Regions from separate parts of the Homo sapiens genome. Here all the other regions are linked to region 4. The links come from fine-mapping of genetic effects on gene expression. A gene starts in region 4. Each other region holds a variant in brackets. All regions are shown on one strand. Distances are between the middles of the regions.

Region 1 (5,153 bases), 28 kb before region 4:
GCCCGCCTCGGCCTCCCAAAGTGCTGGGATTACAGGCGTGAACCACCACACCCGGCCCCTACTTTCTGTCTCTATAGACCTGCCTATTCTGGACGTTTCATATAAATGAAATAATATATGATCTTTTCTATCTGGCTTCTTTCACTTAATATTTCAAGGTTCATCCATGTCATATCACATATCCATCTGTACTTCATTACTTTTTATAGCTGAATAACATTTCATTGTCTGGATATACCACCTTTGTTTATCCATTCATCAGATGACAGACTTTTGGATTGTTTCAATTTTTGGCTATTATGAAGAATGCTGCTATGAACATCTTGTACAAGTTTTTGTGTGGACATACAGTTTTAATTCCCTTGTGTAGATATCTAGGAGAGGAACTGCTGGGTAAACTCTATGTTTAACTTTTAGAAGTACTGCCACATCATTTTCCAAAGTGAGTACACATCATTTTACATTCCCTACAGCAGAGCACAAGGGTTCAATTTCTCCACATCCTTGCCAACACTTGTTACTGTCCAGTATTAAGTTTTAAATGGTTCAAGTCCCCACAGTGAACTCTCTTCATCCAATTCTCAAGCTTCATTTTCATTGTAATGATCTTGTCATGTGTCGAATACAATAAAAAAGTCATAATTTTACTCTGAACATTCAGCCTTGAAGAAATGTCAAATAAATTAACTTTGTAAGCAATTTTTAGATTAATATTTAATAGTATTTTATTTTATCCAGGTTTTCCCCCTCACCGTGTTACATGCCATCATAACACCCTATTACTCCTACCTAGCAATTACAATCATCCACTATTCAAATGTTTTCTTTCTTTCCTTTCCCTTTATTTTTTTAAGAAATGGGGTCTTACATGCACACGTATGTTTATTGTGGCACTATTCACAATAGCAAAGACTTGGAACCAAGCCAAATGTCCAACAATGATAGACTGGATTAAGAAAATGTGGCACATATACACCATGGAATACTATGCAGCCATAAAAAATGATGAGTTCATGTCCTTTGTAGGGACACGGATGAAATTGGAAATCATCATTCTCAGTAAACTATCGCAAGAACAAAAAACCAAACACCGCATATTCTCACTCATAGGTGGGAATTGAACAATGAGAACACATGGACACAGGAAGGGGAACATCACACTCTGGGGACTGTTGTGGGGTGGGGGGAGGTGGGAGGGATAGCTTTAGGAGATATACCTAGTGCTAAATGACGAGTTAATGGGTGCAGCACACCAGCATGGCACATGTATACATATGTAACTAACGTGCACATTGTGCACGTGTACCCTAAAACTTAAAGTATAATAATAATAATAAAATAAATAAATAAATAAATAAAAAGAAATGAGGTCTTCTACATTTTTGGCTGGATTTGAATTCATGGGCTCAAGCAAATCTCCTGCCTCGGTCTCCCGAGTAGCTGGGATTACAGGCACGTACCACCATGCCTGGCTTTTTTTCCATATTTATTTGTCCATCTCTCTCAGTAGAATATAAGGACTTGAGGGCAGGGACCTTGTTTGTCTTTTTCCTCTATTGTATCACCACTGCATAACAATGCCATGCACATAGCAGGTGCTCAATCTATTTGCTAACTAAACACATGATTTAAATAAGCATACTTCTGTATGGTTTGATTTTTTTAAAAAAAACCATAACAGCCAGGCAGGTCAGTGACAGCATGATGCTTTAACACAGCAGTCCCCAACCTTTTTGGCACCAGGGACCAGTTTCATGGAAGACAATTTTTCCATAGACAGGGGTGGTGGTGGGCGGCGGTGGGGGGTCGGGGGCGGTGGTTTCAGGATGAAACCGTTCCACCTCAGATCAGGCATTAGATTCTCATAAGGAGCCCGCAATCTAGATCCCTCACATGTGCTGTTCACAATAGGGTTCACAATCCTATAAGAATCTAATGCCACCACTGATCTGACAGGAGGTGGAGTTCAGGCATAATAACGCTTGCTCATTTGCTGCTCACCTCCTGTGCCACCCGGTTCCCAAGAGGCCACGGACTGCTACCCATCAGTGGACTGTGGGTTGGAGACCTGTTTTAACAGAAGTAGGAAGCATTCCCTGTGCACCAACTGTGCCTGCAGTAATACAATAATGCTTCCGAGTAACCTTTAAGTATCACATTTTCCATTCACTTTTCTAGTTACCCATTCTGAGCTGCAAGAACACAAAAACGTTCTCTGATAGCTTTTACAGCAAACACAAAAACTGTCACCCTTACATAAGCAGAATATGAAAAAAAAAAAAAAGTCACTTCAATCCCTCCCGTGACCACCAATTTAGCCATCATGGAAAGGCAGAATTCTAACTAATTTTGCTTGCATAGGCATGTAACAAAA[T/C]GCCTCCTTGAAAAATCTTTGTAAAACTGATGCTCCAAGAAAGTGTGCCATAATTATCCTGTGGCTCCTGCATTCTTCCTGGTATTCTACCACATACTCTCAGGGGATGTACACTTGATATGAGAAGTATGAAAATATGTGACTACTGGTTCTTTCCATACGAAAGAATTCTTACTTAAGTATCTTTTTAAAAATAAAGAAGATTTTTGCTTTCTCAAAAAAGATTTTTAAATGTCCATTACTACTTGGGCCCTTCTAATTCACACTGGAAGTCTAATTCATTACTGTGAGTAATCTGCAAAAAATAACTGAAGAAAGGCAAAATATTTGCTTTTGTGGACCCTTGAGAGATAGAAGAAATAAAGGTCACACCAGGCAAACTGACTCTAGCATCCACGTTATTAACCTCAACACTATACTGCGTAGCCAGGCAGCCTCCCTTTTATTTTAATCACCCATTTTCAAGGGCCCTATGAAGCAAATAGTTCATTATCTTTTCAAGGCAGGAAGTTAAACCAGGAATAATAAACTGCTCTCAAAGAGATCTCAACTGAGCCTAACTCACCCATAAAGTTCTAGCTGAGTTACTTTCATCAATATATTGGGCAGTACACTGGAAATTTGTTAGAATGCAGGTAGTCTCTTGGATTGGCAAAAACTAGACAAAGTGGCTTTCACTTCAGGTATAATATGTCATTACATTAACATTCATTCGTTAGTCAAAGTGAGGTAAGAACATGCTTACTCATAGCAGCTTTTCCAAAAAAGTTGCTCATCATATTCCCTTTCCCTGGTGCCTTGTTGCCTGCTGCAGATGCCTACAAGCACAGAAAACACATATGATTTTTTGCTGGCATTTAGGCTGTTCATGAAGTAGCAGTCTCAAACAAACTCTTCTATAGCAAACTGTTGCGATGGTATAGTCTCTATATAATCATGCCAAAACGCGTAGGTGTTAGATATAAGAACAAATCTAGAACAATAATCCACACCAGACAGTAACTGGTGTTAATCTCTAAAGCTTAGTTTCTTATATATCTTATAAAATTAATTATCCATGGATATAGCTAAACTTTTCTTGAGCACATTTAAAAACTATTTAATTTGACAGAATTAAAAAAGATCAGAGGCAGTATGTACACAAAGCGGGAAAACCTAAAACATTACATTTTTAATCATCAGAAGTAGATCTGAATTCCTGGTTCCCACCATTTAGTAGCAATATGGGCTCCAGGCAAATTACTTAAGTCTAGGTTTCAGTTTTACCATATGCGAAAGGGAAATAGTTAATATCTCCCTCACAGAACTGATAAGAGGATTTAAACAAAGACACTGGCACACAGTTGAAATTCAATAAACGTTAGTGTTTTCCTCCATCCTTCTTCTTTCCCAAGACAGACGCTTGAAAATGACAGTGATCTGAATTAAATACACTTGACACTGGAAAATGACAGTGATAATAATAATAGTAACAACAATAATTATGCTTTTCTGGATTTTTAAAATAGTATCTTAATGATACTTTTCTTAAGTCAATGCCCTTGAGTTAGTTCAGATGACTGAACAATAAAAATCTAAGAGAAGCAAATAAGGCAAAAACAAAACAAAAAAACCTGCATAAAGTATAAGAATGGGAAATACACTAGGAAGGAAGGTATATGTTGCAAAGCCCAGAATATAAGATGTTCCTCAGAAAGACATATTGCAAATAAACATTTTTTTGAATGTCAACAATTCTCGAGGTGTTTTCACATGTTTTCATCTGGGTTTCACAACAATCTTGTAATGTGCACAAGGTAGGCATTACCATTTTGCAAAGGAAATCCAAGGTTTGGTGAGAATCATTATCAAAAGCAAAAGAACTCTTTCAGATAACAATATCAAGTATTAAAGGGTTCAAACTAAAGTAGAAAAATCAGAACTGAATATCAGAATCTTATATAAATAAACTACTACCACTGCAACCATTAATGCTTTTCTAGTTACCCACTCTGAGCTGCAATGAAGGGGTATCTTCAAAGAAGACTTACATTTGTTACTTCTTTAGCCTCTGTTTTCGTTTCCTTGTTGGTTTCTTGGGTTTTAGCAGCAGCTTTGGAGGCAAACATTCCCATAATTCCTTTGGGCTGCTGGGAAACCTGCTTGGATGCAGGTGGGCCATGACCATTGGTGGTCAGCTCATTGTTGGCTTGTGTCTCACTTGACATGTGAAGATGTGACTGCTCAAACTTTTTGGAAGACGAAGAGGATTCAGCAGGAGCTCTAGGGACGGCAGCTGCACATTGTATAGCACTAAATCTGGGGACAGAAATGTTACATTAAGTTAATGTCAGCATATGCATTCTTGGGTGGTTCAACAAAAAAAGAAAAAAAAAACTAATGTCAGTATAAAACTTTATTTTCAAACTCTTGCTTCTTCCACACAATACTTAACTCTAATATTGTTTAGAATCGACTTTAGAAAAATGTATGAAACTCTCTATTACATAAAGAAACAAATATTAGAGAGAAGTGAGTCACTTTTACTAGGTTATACATCTAGTTAGTAATAGATAGGATTGGAATTAGGTGCCTTCTACCACTAATTGAATATTCTTGTTTTTGATAAAAGTATTCTAATTCAAAAGAGTAGGAATGCAACCAACAATAATAAAAGATGCAGTAATTTCATTATCCTTGGGAAATGAAATAGCCTTTGTTTTTAAAGACCTTCCTCTGATAGGGCTAGATTTGCAATATTGACTGAATCAAAACTAAGCTTTAAATATTAACAAATTTC
Region 2 (5,153 bases), 22 kb before region 4:
AGGCCAAGAGAAGAAAATTGGTGGAACAGCTTGTGTGGCATATTAAAGGGAACATACATCTCTCTCTAATCATTATAGAAGTGCCGTTTCACACAAATCCATAATGTAACATTCCACATTGTGAATGGGTAATTGATTTAGCCTTCTCAAAGGATTGTACTTAAAGCAAAGTTCCCCAGCTTTTTCTAACAAAGAAAAATATTTTATTTTTCCCAGTCTTGCTTATTGAGCATATGTAAGACCTCCTTGAAGTCTTATTTATCTTTTTTATTTCAGGCACCCAGCTCAAGACCTGGCACATAGAAAAGTGCTGGAAACGACATGTTGAAAGAATGACTAAGTGAATGAAAGTGAGGCTTCTGGCTTCTCTCCCTTCTTTAGTGTATCACCTTCAACTTGGGGTGGGAGATTTCTAAACTATGTGGTGATGGCAATTATCTTAAAAGATCAACCAGGCACAACTTCAAGATTAACTGCTAGAATACCTGGCCTAATGAAAAAAAAAAATCCCTGATACATCATTTCATCTCAGAAGTAACTTTAGACTGGGCAGCCCCAAAGCTAGAGTCAAAAGCTCCAAAAATCTTCCACTGATTTATTATGGTCTTCATCAGAAAACTCTGTATTTACACACATCTTTTATGCATCAGAGTTAAGAACAGACGGAAATCATTTGCTTTCACCCACTGCTCTTCCTCTCTGACCTTGCAGTGCTTCCATATACAAGGAAAAGAGTAATGTTTTATTTCACTGTCAACGTCTGAAGTTGGCCTTGAAACAACTCTTTCTCCTCTGGTCTGAATTCTACACCATAGGGTCAGGACCAGGAATTGGCAATGAGGAAGAGACCGAGTTAGGCTAGGAGTATGTCTGATGACAAGAGATCTCTGCTCAATCCTAAAATTTCAACTCTCTTCATGTCACGGCACTTCTTAAAACACACGAAATCATAAGTGAGATCTCAGTTGGCCCATAATTCTCAGGACTAAATACAAACTCATTTGTTGGAGATAAATTCACTTTTCTACTGAGGATACTTTAAGTATTTAGGTAAAGTTTCACTGAAGTGCTTCCTATTACCACATTTCTACTTGCCATGTTTATTTTAGTGGGCCCTGGCAGATTTCATTTTGAACTTTTGCGTCACTTTTATTCTTGTTTGCTTACTTGCTAGATATAACAAGGGAACTGATTTTTAGAGCCTGGAATACCCAACTAGATTTTAAAATTTTTTGAAATCTAGTAATATATTTCAAATAAACTTATCAGGGTGTTAATATTTTCTTGAAATCCTTCCCTAAAAGATAAGAGACTTGTAAATTATTCCTCTTTGGCCATATATTTATTTAATAAATATTTGTATGCTTATTATACTCAAGGTTTTGAGCTAAAGAAAAAAAAAGAACTAATGTCTATCATTAATTCACTCAGTAACTACTTATTAGTGTGCCAGGCACTATTTTGGGTATATAGTTAACAATTTAGACACGATCCCTATTCTCATGGAACTTATAGAAACTATGGCAATTCTATATCTTTCTCTCCTTGAGGACCCATCTTTATCAGTCATACCACCTCCCCAGGATTTTCAACCTTTTCTTCCTACAGCACCTTTCTAACAACCCAAGTTCAAGTCATTCTCAACTTAAGAAATGTATATATCCTTCCCGTCTCAATCCCTCCTTAGCTACCACCCTCTTTTCTGCTTTGCAGTCTAATCTCCTGGAAAGAGCTGTCCATATTTGCTGTCTCACTTCCTCTGTCCCCATTTACTTAGCTCACCAGAATCTGGTCACTCCACTGAAAATGCTCTTACCAAGGCTATCACTAAATGTCATGGACAATTTTCACTTCCTAACTTACTTGGCTTCTCAGCATTGTTTGACATTGTTGACTGGTTCCTCCTACTTGAACCTCTTTCCTTAGGGGCTGAAACCCCATATACTCTTATCTCTGGTGGCTCCCCTTGGGCCCCTCTTTTTCTATTCTTCCCTTGAAAAGCAGCTATCATTAAATAGTGCTTACTATGTGCCAAGTGCTATTCTAAGTGCTTAACATATAATAGTCCATTTAATCCTCTACAACCCTATCTGGCTGGTACTACTGTCAGCTTTACTGACAAGAACAGGGAGGCACTGAGAGGTTAAATAATTTGCCCAAGGTCAGACAACTAGTACTTTGGCCTAGAGTTTTACTTTCTGCCCTTCTTTCATTCTATACATTCTCTCTGATAACTCTATCTACTGCTATGGCCCATTTACTATTCTGATTTCAAAATCTCTATCTTTACCCCAGATTTCTCTCCTTAGCTCTAGATTCACCTATCTTTTGCGATGGACATCCTCACTTGGATTTCTCACAAGCTTCTCAAACTCAACATCTCTAAAACCCAATTTGTCATTTTTCTATCTCTCCTAAAGCCTGCTCCTCCTGTTATATTCCCCTTCTTAGTACCCAGCTGCCCAAGCCAGAAGCATGGGTATCAACCTTTCAATACCAAGAAAGGCTGTCTTCCACCATCCCCTACCCCCACACACCTTGTCCCCAACCACTACCATACATCGAGGTTTTTTTTTTTTGAGCTGGAGTCTTGCTCTGTCGCCCAGGCTGGAGTGCAGTGGAGCGATCTCTGCTCGCTGCAAGCTCTGCCTTCCGTGTTCACGCCATTCTCCTGCTTCAGCCTCC[T/C]GAGCAGCTGGGACTATAGGTGCCTGCCACCGTGCCCAGCTAATTTTTTGTATTTTTAGTAGAGACGGGGTTTCACCGTGTTAGCCAGGATGGTCTCAATCTCCTGACCTCGTGATCCACCTGCCTCGGCCTCCCAAAGTGCTGGGATTACAGGCGTGAGCCACTGTGCCCGGCCAAACTGAGGTTTTTTGATGGTCATGACTCATTAACCTTCATACTTCTCCATCCCCAACAGCACAACTTCACATTAGAAAACTGTCATATCCACCTGGATTACTGCCACATTTCTCCTCCCTGATGGCCTTGCCTCCAGATTATTCTCTTCTGATTTATCTTCAATACTGCAACCAGAGCAATCTTTCTAAAATGCAATTTTGATAATTTCACTCCATCTGCTTAAATATTTTCAGTGGCTCCCCAGCGCTCTCAGAATAGAGTCTAAATTTTTATCCTAGTAGTCAAAGCATAATGTAATTCCTGCTTGGCCTCTTTAGTCTTCTATCTAATTATTTCCTACCTTTCACTCTAAGTTGCACCCATAGAAAACGATCATGGTTCTGCACAAGCATGTTTTCTCTCTTAGCTCTGTCCTTAGTCTCTCATTTTTCCTTTGCCTGGCTATTTCTACTGGGCCTTCAGGCCTCAACTGAGATATCATAACCTTCTGTGTCATAAGTCATAACAGTCTTGTCCCCTCACTCTATCCATCCAAAAGTGGGAGATAAGTGCCCCTGCCAACATCTTCCCCCAATATTCCTCCTATTACAGTACTCTTACACTGTACCATAACTGCCTGTCTCCCATCAGTTACATGAAAAGGTACGCGGGCACATTCACTCTATACTGTATGGTATGTCATAGGTACTCATGAGTTATTTGCTGAATGAATTCAAATGATTTTGCTCAGTACCTGTCAAAGTAGTAGGTGCTCAATGTATGTCTGGGGAACTGATCTGAATTATCAATACAACCCCACAAAGGAGACATTATTACATTGAATTTAAAGGCAAAGAAACCAAAGCTCAAAGAGTTTAAGTAATTTGTCCAATGCCACTGGGCTACTAAGCAGCAAAGCCACAAATCAAGCCTGTGACCACCAATTTCCAAAATGTACACGCATTATAGTCCGTTACCTCCTTGTGCTGTTAAGGATACAAAAGATTTAAAAAAAAACCTGATCCTGGCTATGGAAGCTCAAGAAAAAGTTGCTTTTGGATGAAAAGTAGAGGGATATCAAATTAGGAACTGTTTTTTTAAGGACAACGTTTGAACTGGTTCTTGAAGGATGGGTAGGATTTAGACAAGCAGAGACTGGGTAAGGGAGTTAGAGAGGGCACGACAAACATTTCTGGTGGCAGTGACAGGATAAATACATGAGAAATAGATTTATGGAGAGTCCACTGGGGTTTTCAATATGGGTTGTGGCTGCTATTTTTCACCTTATGATGTACTAATAAAACCAGGCATGTTTCTTACTGCAAGATAAATGGGGTTTTACTAGACTTGGCATTCACTCTTAAGAGGCAGCCACTGTGTAAACATCTTACAAAATCAATTCGTAAAGAAGCCCACAAGGAACATTAAGACGCTTACTTGCTGCAGTTCTGCAAGTTGCTTTTAAGGATGTCATAGTCAGTATTGAACAGAGGCCCACTGTCCTTTAGCATGGCTTTCTGGATGCTGTACACATGGATGCTGGCAGTCACAGCTAGCTTGGACTTCACTGCTACAAGTCAACAGGAAAAGCAGTCAGTTAATACACAAACTTCATAGCATGTGGGGACTTTAACAAGAAACCCTTCTGCATTAAAGCATTTGTAATCTGTGGTGGTCCAAAAAACTCTAAAGGCCACACAGCCACATATACAGTGAAACATCAACTCTTCTGTCTGCAATGGGGACATTATGACAAGGTAGGTGGTGGTGAGTCATTTCTAAGGACAGCACCTGAGAGGGTATCACTCATCCAGTGGACACTTAGTAAATATTAATGATTGATGATGACTACGATGATCTTTTTCTTTTGGTCAGAAAAGAGCCTTACACTATAGCATATAATTAAAGAGTACTAAGTAATTTCTATCTGAGAATATTCATTTATATATTTCAATTTTAGTTTAGAGAAAGCAACTCTGTAATAAAAACACTACTAACTAGATAAGTCTACGGAAGAGAAACACAAAAGAACACCACAAGAATAAATGTTAGGTTCCGCGAAGGAAGGGATTGCAGCTAACTTGTTCCATGTCCCCAGTGCCTAGTATAGAGCTTGGCACATAGTAGATCATCATTACATATCTACAGAATAAAGAAATTTTGCTTTGCTTAACACTGTGGGAATTCAGAAAGTAAAAAGTGGACAAACCCACCACTCTGAATACTTCAGAGTTAAATTTGGTAAAATACCCCCACCCTACCCCCATGGACAGGAACTCTTTCTTTTTAAAATACACATATTTTTTGTGTCC
Region 3 (5,153 bases), 71 kb before region 4:
CTTTTTCAAGATTGTCTTGACTGTTCTTGGTCCCTTGCATTTGCATATGAGTTTTAGGGTCAGCTTGTCAATTTCTGGGGAAAAAAAAATCCAGCTGGGATTTTGATAAGAGATTGCACTAAATCTGTAGATCAATTTAGGGAGTATTGCCATCTTAAGAATACTACTAAGTCTTTTGATTCATGAGCACATGAAGTGTTTCCATTTATTTAGGTCCTCTTTCTCTCTCTCTCTCTCTCTCCACTTCCTGGGTTCAGGTGATTCTCCGGCCTCAGCCTCCCAAGTACCTGGGATTACAGGCGCCCGCCACCACACACAGCTAATTTTTGTATTTTTAGTAGAGACAGGGTTTCACCATGTTGGCCAGGCTGGTCTCGAACTCCTGACCTCAGGTGATCCACCTGCCTCGGCCTCCCAAAGTGCTGGGATTACAGGCGTGAGCCACTGCGTCTGGCCTTCAAATGGCTTTTTAAAAGATGAGAAGATATTTCCTGACAAACAAGATGGGAAAGGCATCCCAGGAAGCTGGGATTAGAGGTGTGAACCACTGCACCCTTTAAACAATGCTTTGTAGATTTCAGAATTTATATAAGCTTTGCACTTCGTTGTATGTATTCCTGAGTACTTTTAAACTTTTTGATACCATTGTAAATGCAATTGTTTTCTAATTTCATTTTCAGATTATTTCTAGCTTGTAGAAATATAATTGATGTTTGTACATTGGGCTTGTATCCTAAAGCCTTGTTGAACTTAACATATTGGGTTTAATAGGTTTTTTAGTGGATTCCTTAGGATTTTCTATATAGAAGATCATGTCATCTGAATACAGAAATAGTTGTACTTCTTCCTTTCTAAAATGAATCCGTTTTGTTCTTTTTCCTGCCTAATTGCCTGGCTAGAGCCTCCAGTACAATGTTGAATATAAGCGGTGAGAGCAGACTTCCTTGTCTTATTTTTGATCCTAAGGGTAAGTTTTCAGTCTTTCACCATTAAGTATGATGTTAGCTGTGGGTTTTTGTTGATACCCTTTATGAGGTAGAGGAAGTTTCCTTCTATTTCTAGTTTTGTTTAGTGTTTTTTAAAAATTATGAAAGGGGCCAGGCATGGTGGCTCATGCCTGTAATCCCAGTGCTTTGAGAGGCCAAGGTAGGCGGATCACCTGAGGTCAAGAATTTGAGACCAGCCTGGCCAGCATGGCAAAACCCCCTCCACTAAAAAATACAAAAATTAGCCGGGTGTGGTAGCGCATGCCTGTAATTGCAGCTACTCTGGAGGCTGAGGCAAGAGACTTGCTTGAACCTGGGAGGTGGAGGTTGCAGTGAGTCGACATCGTGCCACTGTACTCCATCCAGCCTGGGTGACAGAGCAAGACTCTGTCTCAAAAAAAAAAAAAAAAAAAAAAATTATAAAAGGGTGCTAGATTTTGTCAAATGCTCCTTCTGGCTCTATTAATTTCATTTTTTTTTTTTTTGAGACAGAGTCTTGCTCTGTTGCCTAGGCTGGGGTGCAGTGGCACAATCTTGGCTCACTGCAACCTCCGCTTCCTGGGTTCAAGTGATTTTCATTTTCATGCCTCATCCTGCCAGGCAGCTGGGACTACAGGCATGCAGCCCCATGCCAAGCTAATTTTTATTTTTATTTATTTATTTTTATTTTATTATTTATTTATTTATTTTATTTTTATTTTTATTTTTTGAGATGGAGTCTCACTCTGTTGACCAGGCTGGAGTGCAGTGGTGCGGTCTCAGCTCACTGCAACCTCTGTCTCCTGGGATCAAGCAATTCTCCTGCCTCAGCCTCCCAAATAGCTGGGATTACAGGCATGTGCTACCATGTCTGGCTAAGTTTTGTATTTTTAGTAGAGACAGAGTTTCAGCATGTTGGCCAGGCTGGTCTCGAACTCCTGACCTCAAGGGATCTGCCCACCTAGGCCTCTCAAAGTGTTGGGATTACAGGCGTGAGCCACCACACCCAGCTCTTTCTGACTCTACTGAGATGATTGTGTGGTTTTTGTCCTTTATTCTATTGATAAGGTTTATTATATTAATTGATTTTTCAGATATTAAACCAACCTTAAATTCCTAGGATAAATCCCTCTTGCTTATGGTGCAAAATCCTTTTTATATGTCACTGGATTCATCTTCGTAATTTTTTTTTGAGGATTTCTGCATCCATATTCATTAGGAATATTAGTCTGTAGTTTTCTTATGATGTCTTTGTCTGGTTTTGGTGTCAGAGTAATACTGACCTCATAGAGTAAGTTGGGAAATGTTCTCTCCTCTTCTAATTTTTGGAAGAGTTTGTGAAGAATTTGGTATTAAATCTTCTCTAAGTGTTTGGTAGAATTTATACTTTTTATTGCTG[A/G]GCTGTACTCCATTATATGAATATACCACAATTTATTCATCCATTCACCTGTTGATAGATATTTGGGTTGTTTCCAGTTTTAGAATAAAGCTGCTATGAACATTAGTGTACAAATCTTTGTATGGATGTATGTTTTCATTTTCTTGGGTAAATATTTACAGTATAATTGCTGGGTCATTTGGTAGATGCATGGTAACTTTATGAGAAAGTTCCAGACCAATTTTCAAAGTGGTTGTGTCACTCCTACCAGCAACGTATGAGACTTTTGCTTACATTCTACAATCTTACCACTTAAGCTGTTGCCACCGTTTGATTTTAGCCATTCTAATGGGCATGTAGTGATATCTCAATGTCATTTTCATTTACATTTTGCTGAATAATAATATTAAAACACATTTTCATGTGCTTATTGGCCATTGGTATATCTTCCTTTATTCAGTGCCGGTTCTTATTTTTTGCCCATTTTTTAAAAATTAGATTTTAATTGGGTCTTCTTAATATTGAGCTGTATAAGTTTTTTATATACACTGGATAAAAGTCTTTTGTCAAATATATAGACATAGAGAGATAGAGATATATGCATGGTGATAACTAACTCACATTCTATGGTTTTCCTACTTATTTCTTAATGGTGTCTTTTGCTTAGCAGAAGGTTTAAATTTTGATGAATTCCATTTTATTGATGTTTCTTTTATGGTTATTGCTTTCTGGGTCCTAAAAAAGTTTGACTATCCAAAGATGATGAAAATGTTCTTCTATATATTTTCTTCTAAAAACATTTTAATAGCCAGTTGTTCCAGCATCGTTTGTTGAACAGACTTTTCTTTCCACATTGAATTGCTTTTCCTCCTTGGATGAAAATCAACCACTATTTACAGACTAACTATTCTGTCCCATTGATCTATTTTTTCTATCTTTATGTCAACACCACACTGTCTTGACTACTGTGGCACTACTGTAAGTCTAGAAATCAAATGTAAGTTCTTCACCTCTGTCTTATTACAAGACTGCTTTATACTACATCTTTTCCATTTCCATGCAAATTTTAGAACTTCAACTTACCAATTTCTACAAAAAAGCCTACTAGAAATTTGATTGGCATTGCTTTGAACCTATTGATCCATTTGGAGAGAACTGACAAGTTAACAATATTGCGTTCTTCCAATCTACAAATGTGGTATATTACTCCATTAATTTAGTTTCTTTAATTTCCCTCATCAGAGACAGAGTAAGATAGCTGAATAGAAGCTTCCAGTGATCATCCTCCCCACAGGAACACCAAATTTTAACAACTATTTACATAAGAAAAGCACCTTTATAGGAACCAAAAATCAGGTAAGCAATCACAGTACCTGGTTTTAACTTCGAAATTATAGTCTTGAATCACCAATGCCACCCCTCCCTCATCCCCTTGCAGTGCCCTTGGTACAGAGAATCTGTGTGGTTGGGGGAGGGAGAGTGCAGCAACTGTGGGACTTTGAACTCAGCAAAACTGGGCTGAACTCAGCAGATGTGTGTCCATGGAAGGAGCACTTAGACCAGCCATAGCCAGAGAGGAATCGCCTATCCCAGCAGTCAGAACCTGAGTTTAGGGAAGCCTCAGCACTGTGGGCTAAAGTGTTCTGGGGTCCTAAGTAAACTTGAAAGGCAGTCTGTGCCACAAGGACTGCAACTCCTAGGCAAGTCTTAGTGTTGTGCTGGGCTTGGAGCTTGTGGACCTGGGGGGCATGTGACCTAGTGAGACACCAGCTGGGTTGGCTAATGGAGTGCTTGTGCCACTCCTCCTCCAACTCCAAGCAGCACAGTTCTCAGCAATGAAAGTGACTGCTTCCTTCTGCTTGAGGAGAGGGAAGGGTAAAAAGAATTTTGATTTGCATTTTGGATACCAGCTCAGGCACGACAGGATAGGGCAGTGGGAAGAGTTTTGAGGCCCCCGTTCCAGGCCCTAGCTCCCAGATATTTCTAGACACACCCTGGTCCAGAAGAAAACCTATTCCCTTGAAGAGAAGGGGCCAGGTCAGGCAGGATTCATCACCTGCTGATTAAAGAGCCCTTGGGCTCTGAATAATGAGCAGCAATAACCAGGTAGTACGCCATGGGCCTTGGTGAGACTCTGAGACATGCTGGCTTCAGGTGAGACCCAGCACATTCCCAGCTGTGATGGCCATGGTGAGAGACTCCCGCTTGAGAAAAGAAGAGGGAAAAGTAAAGGGGACTTTGTCTTACACTTAAGTAACCAGCTTGCCCACAGTGGGGTACAGTACCAAACGGGCTCTTGGGATCCACAATTCCAGGCCTTGGCTCTTGGAAGGTATTTCTGGACCTGCCCTGGGCCAGAGAGGAGCCCACTGCTCTGAAGGGCGAGTCCCAGGCCTGGCAGCATTCACCATAAGCTGACAGAAGAGCCCTTGGGCTGTAAGTGAACATCAGTGAGACTGGCAGTACTCCCCATGGGCCTGTGGTGGTGGTGGCCATTGGGAGAGGCTCCTCGGCCTGTGGAAAGGGAAGGGAAGAGTAGAAAGGACTTTGTCTCGTAGCATGAGTTCAGCTTAACCACAGTAGAATAGAGCACAAGGTAGATTTATAAGGTTTTTTACTCCAGTCCCTGGCTCCCAGACAGCATCTCTGGACCCACCTGGGGCCTAAGAGAACTTGCTGCCCTGAAGAAAAGGACACAAACCTGGCTGGCTTCACTACCTGCTGATTGTGGAACTCTAGGGCCTTGAGTGAACATAGGTGAAAGCTAGGTAGAGGCTAACGGGGTCTTGGGTAAGACCCAGCACTGTGCT
Region 4 (5,153 bases):
GATACCACTTCACATCCACTAGGATGGTTAAAATAAGACATAATAAAAAGTTTTTGCCAGGTGTGGTGATGTACACCTGTAGAGCTAGTTGGTAGGCTGAGGCGGGAGGATCCTTGAGTTCAAATCCAGCCTGGGCAACATAGTGAAACCCCATCTCAAAAAAAAAAAAAAAAAAAAAAAAGAGTTCATCCATGAGAAGTCTGAGGGAAAAAACAGTGTTAGTGTTAACCAGAATGTGGAGAAACTGAAATACTCATATACTGTTAGGACTGTAAGAAGCGCAGCCATTTTGAAAAATAGTTTGTCAGTTCCTCAAAATGTTAAATACAGAATTATCTCATGACCCAGCAATTCCAATCCTAGTTTGGCTGTGTCCCCACCCAAATCTCAACTTGAATTGTAATAATCCCCACATGTCAAAGACGGACCAGGTGGAGATAACTGAATTATGGGGGCAGTTCCCCCATGCTCTTCTCATGATAGTGAGTTCTCACGAAATCTGACGGTTTTACAAGGGGCTTCCCCCTTCGCTCGACACTCATTCTCTCTCCTGCCACCCTGTGAAGAGATGCCTTCCGCCAAGTCTCCTGAGGCCTCCCCAGCCATGCGGAACTGTGAGTCAATTAAACCTCGTCTTTATAAATTCAATCTCAGGTGTGTCTTCATAGCAGCATGAGAATGGACTAACACAAATACCCAAGATAACTGAAAATATATGTTCATATAAACACTTATAGATGAATGTTTTATACATGAATGTTCATAACAGCATCATTCATAGCAGTCAAAATATGGAAATAACCCAAATGTCCATTAATGATGAATAAACAAAACTTGTTGTATCCATATTACAGACTGAATCATGTCTCCAAAAAGGTAATGTTAAAGCCCTAACCCCCAATACCTTAAAATGTGACCTTATTTAGAAATAGAATTATAGCACATGTAATTAGTTAAGACAAGGTCATATTGGAGTAGGGTGGATTCGTAATTCAGTATGACTGGTGTTCATATAAGATGGACGTGCAAAGATACAGATATACAGGGAGAATGCCATGACAATGAAGGCAGAGATTGGAATTACGCAGCTACAAGCCAAGAAATACCAATGATTGCCAGCAAACCAAATTAGCTCTAATCTATGTAGGCTATCTGTAGAGTTAAAAGCAAAGCATAACAAAACAAAAAAAAATTCCAATATGATTAAAATTGGTAGTAAATTGGACTTACTGTTTGGCCTGGTTAACATGAACCCCTAGTGTATAGCTCAGCCATTTGTATGTCACCTGTAACAAGAAAAAATTTTTCAAATGTTTTATTAGATGACTCCAGAGTGCACATCAGTCCCGAAGGTCTGTTGCTAAAGATTCCTATTCTTAGATGATTATGCCTTACAAATTACAATAAATGCCACTGCAGTTTTCCCAAGAACTATCTATCTGGGTAGGCAGGACCTATTTATCTTAAAAATGCTAAGAAGTTTGTTTCATGAACTAATGAAAAGTAATCTAAAAAGACAAGCTGAACATACCTAACAGAAAAAACTCTCATTTTCCTCACATTCCTTGTTTTACTCAGGCCCTTTCCTCATGATGTTTTTTTTGGGGGCCACCAGCCAAAGCCATCCTAAAACTCATTCAGAAGCTAGATGACTTTGAAGTGTGATGTCTCAGAAACTTCTAAAGAAAGTTGCACCCATGCAAACATTAAAGGGCACAGGTGGTGCAGGGGTCAGGAAACGAAAAAAGTGGGTAAATATTTTTATAAGAGATTAGATTGGGAACTACCAGCATCAAGCCTTCATCCCTCCTAGACCCAGGATGCCTGCACTCTCTTCTCTCAAAGTCTCTTCCAATTCCAAATGTCAAGCTTCCAATAGTTAGAAGACTTGCACAGGTTAGGCAAAGGCAGTGTGATGTAGAAGAAAGCATTAGTAAGAGGACAGACCTAGGTTGAAAAACTGCCTATCCCTTACCAAACGCAAATAAACAAGTTATTTGGCCCCTCAGCTTCAATTTCCTCATCTCGGGATACCACCACCGACCTGGGATGGGGTGCGGGGAGGTCACTGTAAAGATTAAAGTGCCTTGGCACACAGCAGGCACTCAATCATCACGGTTTGCAAAGTGCACTCACATCCATCAATTCGCTCGATCTTTTCCTCACCCGTGTGAAGCGGATCAAACCTCTATCAATGCTTAAATTTCCAGGAAGAGGAAACAGTATCTGGAGGTTACGCAACTTGTAACTTAACACAGTTAAGACACGATTTCCTCAACTGTAAACTTAAAACTTTAAACGCCAACCACCTTAAAAGAAAGGTGTAGGGACGCCTTAGAACTCTCAGCCAACGGCCCTCCCTCCGCGCCCGGTCTCCGCGGCTCCAGCCCCAGGCTCTGTTCCCAGCACGCCCACCCAAGGGACGCGGACTTCCGTGTGTGCTGGAGGACCTTCCCGACGAGTCCTCGCTCGCTCTGGGGCACAGAGCTCGCCCAGGTCCCCTCGTGGGGACCTGTCTCCCCTGGTCCCCACGAAGCCACAAGCAGACAGAGGGTCAAGGCTCCCGCCGCCCTAGCCGGGCCCAGGACCCCGGTCGCACGCCCGCGTTCCCCAGTAGTAGCTGCTCACGATCTTGTTTTGGTCCGTGACGAACTCGTCTATATTTTCCAGATAAAGCTGGTCCGCCATGGTGCGGCAGCGCTGGGACCCGCCTCTAACCCCTCTCTCAATCACAGCCACAGCTCCCGCCGGCGGGAAACGTCTTTGCTCCCTCCCAGGTCCCGGGTCGTTTCCCCGGCAACGGAGGCGACGCACTACGGCGGCCCTCGAAGGGTCAAACTAGTCAGGGAGACGGCGCAGACGGAGGTAGGCAGAGCTAGTAGAAAACACCGAAGTGCGGGGCCTCCTGGCTGGTTTTTTCCTATACCTACGTACCTATGATAAAGTTTAATTTATAAATTAGGCACAGTAAGAGATTAACAAAAATAACTAACGATAAAATAGAACAATTATTATTATACTGTAATAAACATTAGTGAATATGGTCTCTCAACAGATGTCATTGGGTATAATATTTCCCTACCGAGGTTGGCTGCGCGTGATGAAACCCGGGAAAGCCAGGATAAAGGGGAGACTATTGAAAACAAGTAATTTTAGTAGTGCTGCCAACTGGGGAAAAGTACTGCCTGTTATAATCCCTCAGAGTTGAGAAATTAGGGAAGGTTTTTCCAGAGGGGTTGAGGAGAGGCTGAGTGTTTCGGATAGAAGCAGGAGAATTTGCTGGAAAAGAGTTCATTATCTCTGGATTGTTAGGAGAAGAGGCGGATGAGAGAGACTTGGGAGAAACCAAATCGTTGTGCCTAGGAGACTGTGAAGAGGCGCTTGAGCTGTGTTCTCAGGAAAACTTGGAGAAAAGTTATCAGGTTGGGGAATTTCAACTCAAATTTCTCCTAGTATCACCCCCGCAAAAATCTTTAATAATTGACTTCAGCATAAGCCGGTGCAGTTCAGTATCGCAGGTGTAGTGCGTAAGAGAGTGGGCTCTAGAGTCAGACTTACTGGGTTTGAATCCTGGTTTTGCTGTTTGTTGTGTAAACTTAGGTAATTCTTTAGCCACTAGGAGCCTATTTCCTTATCTATAAAATGGGAATAATAACAGTACCTACTTCAAAGGCTTGTCGCGACATGCATTCATTCAAAGCATAGCAAAATCCTGAGAAAGGCCAGATACTATTCTGAGTGTTGAGGTGCTGGGGCTGCAGCTATGAGCAATAATAAACCGAGCCTGTTCACATGTAACTTACATTCTGAGATTTTTAAGTGAAAGATAGTGGTGGTTTAAAATAGGGTAGCAGACCGGGCGCGGTGGCTAACGCCTGTAATCCCAGCACTTTGGGAGGCCTAGGGGGATGAATCACCTGAGGTCAGGAGTTCGAGGCCTGCCAGGCCCACATGGTGAAACCCTGTCTCTACTAAAAATATAAAAATTAGCCGGGCGTGGTGGCACGTGCCTATAGTCCCAGTTACTCCCAGGGCTGAGGCATGAGAATGTCTTGAATCCAGGAGGTGGAGGTTGCAGTGAGCCGAGATCATGCCACTGCACTTCAGCTTGGGAAACAGAGAGAGACTCCGTCTAAAAATAAAATAAAATGGCTCGGCGCAGTGGCTCACACCTGTAATCCCACACTTTGGGAGGCCGAGGCAGGCAGATCACCTGAGGTCAGGAGTTCGAGACCAGCCTGGCAAACATGGCGAAACCCCGTCTCTACTAAAAATACAAAAATTAACCAGGTGTGGTGGTACACGCCTGTAATCCCAGCTACTCGGGAGGCTGAGGCAGCAGAATCACTTGAACCTGGGAGACCGAGGTTGCGGTGAGCTGAGATGGTGCCACTGCACTCCAGCCTGGGAAACAGAGTGAGACCCCCCTCAAAATAAATAAATAAAATAAAATAGGGTAGCAGTGCCAGGCACAGTAGCTCACACCTATAATCCCAGCACTTTGGGAGGCCAAGGCAAGTGGATCACTTGAGCCCCAGGAGTTCGAGACCAGCCTGAGCAACATACTGAAACTCCGTCCCTACTAAAAAAAAAAAAAAAAAAAGCCATGGTGGCACGAGCCTGTGGTCTGTGGTCTGTGGTCCCAGTTCTGAAGTGGGAGGATGGATTGAGCCCAGGAGGTAGAGGTTGCAGTGAGCACTTGATCATGCCACTGCATACAGCCTGGGTGACAGAGTGAGACCCTGTCTCAAAAAATAATAATTTTTTTTTTTTTTGAGACAGAGTTTTGCTCTTGTTCCCCAGGTTGGAGTGCAATGGCGCGATCTCGGCTCACTGTAACCTCTGCCTCCCGGGTTCAAGTGATTCTCCTGCCTCTGCCTCCCAAGTTGCTGGGATTACTGGCATGCGCCACCACACCCGGCTAATTTTGTTGTAGTTCTAGTAGAGAGGGGGTTTCGCCATGTTGGCCAGGCTGGTCTCGAACTCCTGACCTCAGGTGATCCACCTGCCTTGGCCTCCCAAAGTGCTGGGATTACAGGCGTAAGCCACAACGCCAAACCAATACATTTTTTAAAATAGAGTAGTGGTAGTGGAAATTGAGAGAACTGAGTGACTTGAGTTTTGTTTTAGAGTCGGCAAAACCTGCTGATGAA

Alleles and levels. Alleles are on the strand shown, and positions count from the first base shown. SD is a standard deviation of normalised expression in the study named. Not every link is listed here.
With allele A in place of G in region 3, the expression in liver of the gene that starts at base 2,765 in region 4 is higher (small effect, 0.39 SD a copy in GTEx).

Evidence for each region. PIP is the estimated chance that this variant, and not a neighbour inherited with it, causes the effect.
Region 1: its variant is the best candidate, but not a certain one, in a credible set for the expression of POLD3 in whole blood (INTERVAL, PIP 0.84).
Region 2: its variant is the best candidate, but not a certain one, in a credible set for the expression of POLD3 in monocytes (TOPMed, PIP 0.76).
Region 3: its variant is the best candidate, but not a certain one, in a credible set for the expression of POLD3 in liver (GTEx, PIP 0.65).

What each region holds. Positions count from the first base shown.
Region 1 is chr11:74,618,056-74,623,208 of GRCh38, reverse strand. POLD3 (DNA polymerase delta 3, accessory subunit) reads right to left here. Exons shown (of 12, transcript NM_006591.3): 6 at 4,405-4,672; 7 at 3,120-3,192. Among named protein-coding and RNA genes, the nearest start is that of POLD3, 28 kb to the right of the region's middle. The variant T/C (reference allele first, on the strand shown) is at 2,375.
Region 2 is chr11:74,612,136-74,617,288 of GRCh38, reverse strand. POLD3 (DNA polymerase delta 3, accessory subunit) reads right to left here. Exons shown (of 12, transcript NM_006591.3): 5 at 4,279-4,411. Among named protein-coding and RNA genes, the nearest start is that of POLD3, 22 kb to the right of the region's middle. The variant T/C (reference allele first, on the strand shown) is at 2,686.
Region 3 is chr11:74,661,642-74,666,794 of GRCh38, reverse strand. It overlaps a transcript of POLD3 not described here. Among named protein-coding and RNA genes, the nearest start is that of MIR4696, 56 kb to the left of the region's middle. The variant A/G (reference allele first, on the strand shown) is at 2,365.
Region 4 is chr11:74,590,194-74,595,346 of GRCh38, reverse strand. POLD3 (DNA polymerase delta 3, accessory subunit) reads right to left here and starts at 2,765. Exons shown (of 12, transcript NM_006591.3): 1 at 2,629-2,765; 2 at 1,231-1,286. The coding sequence starts at 2,688. RefSeq lists an enhancer at 2,470-3,103.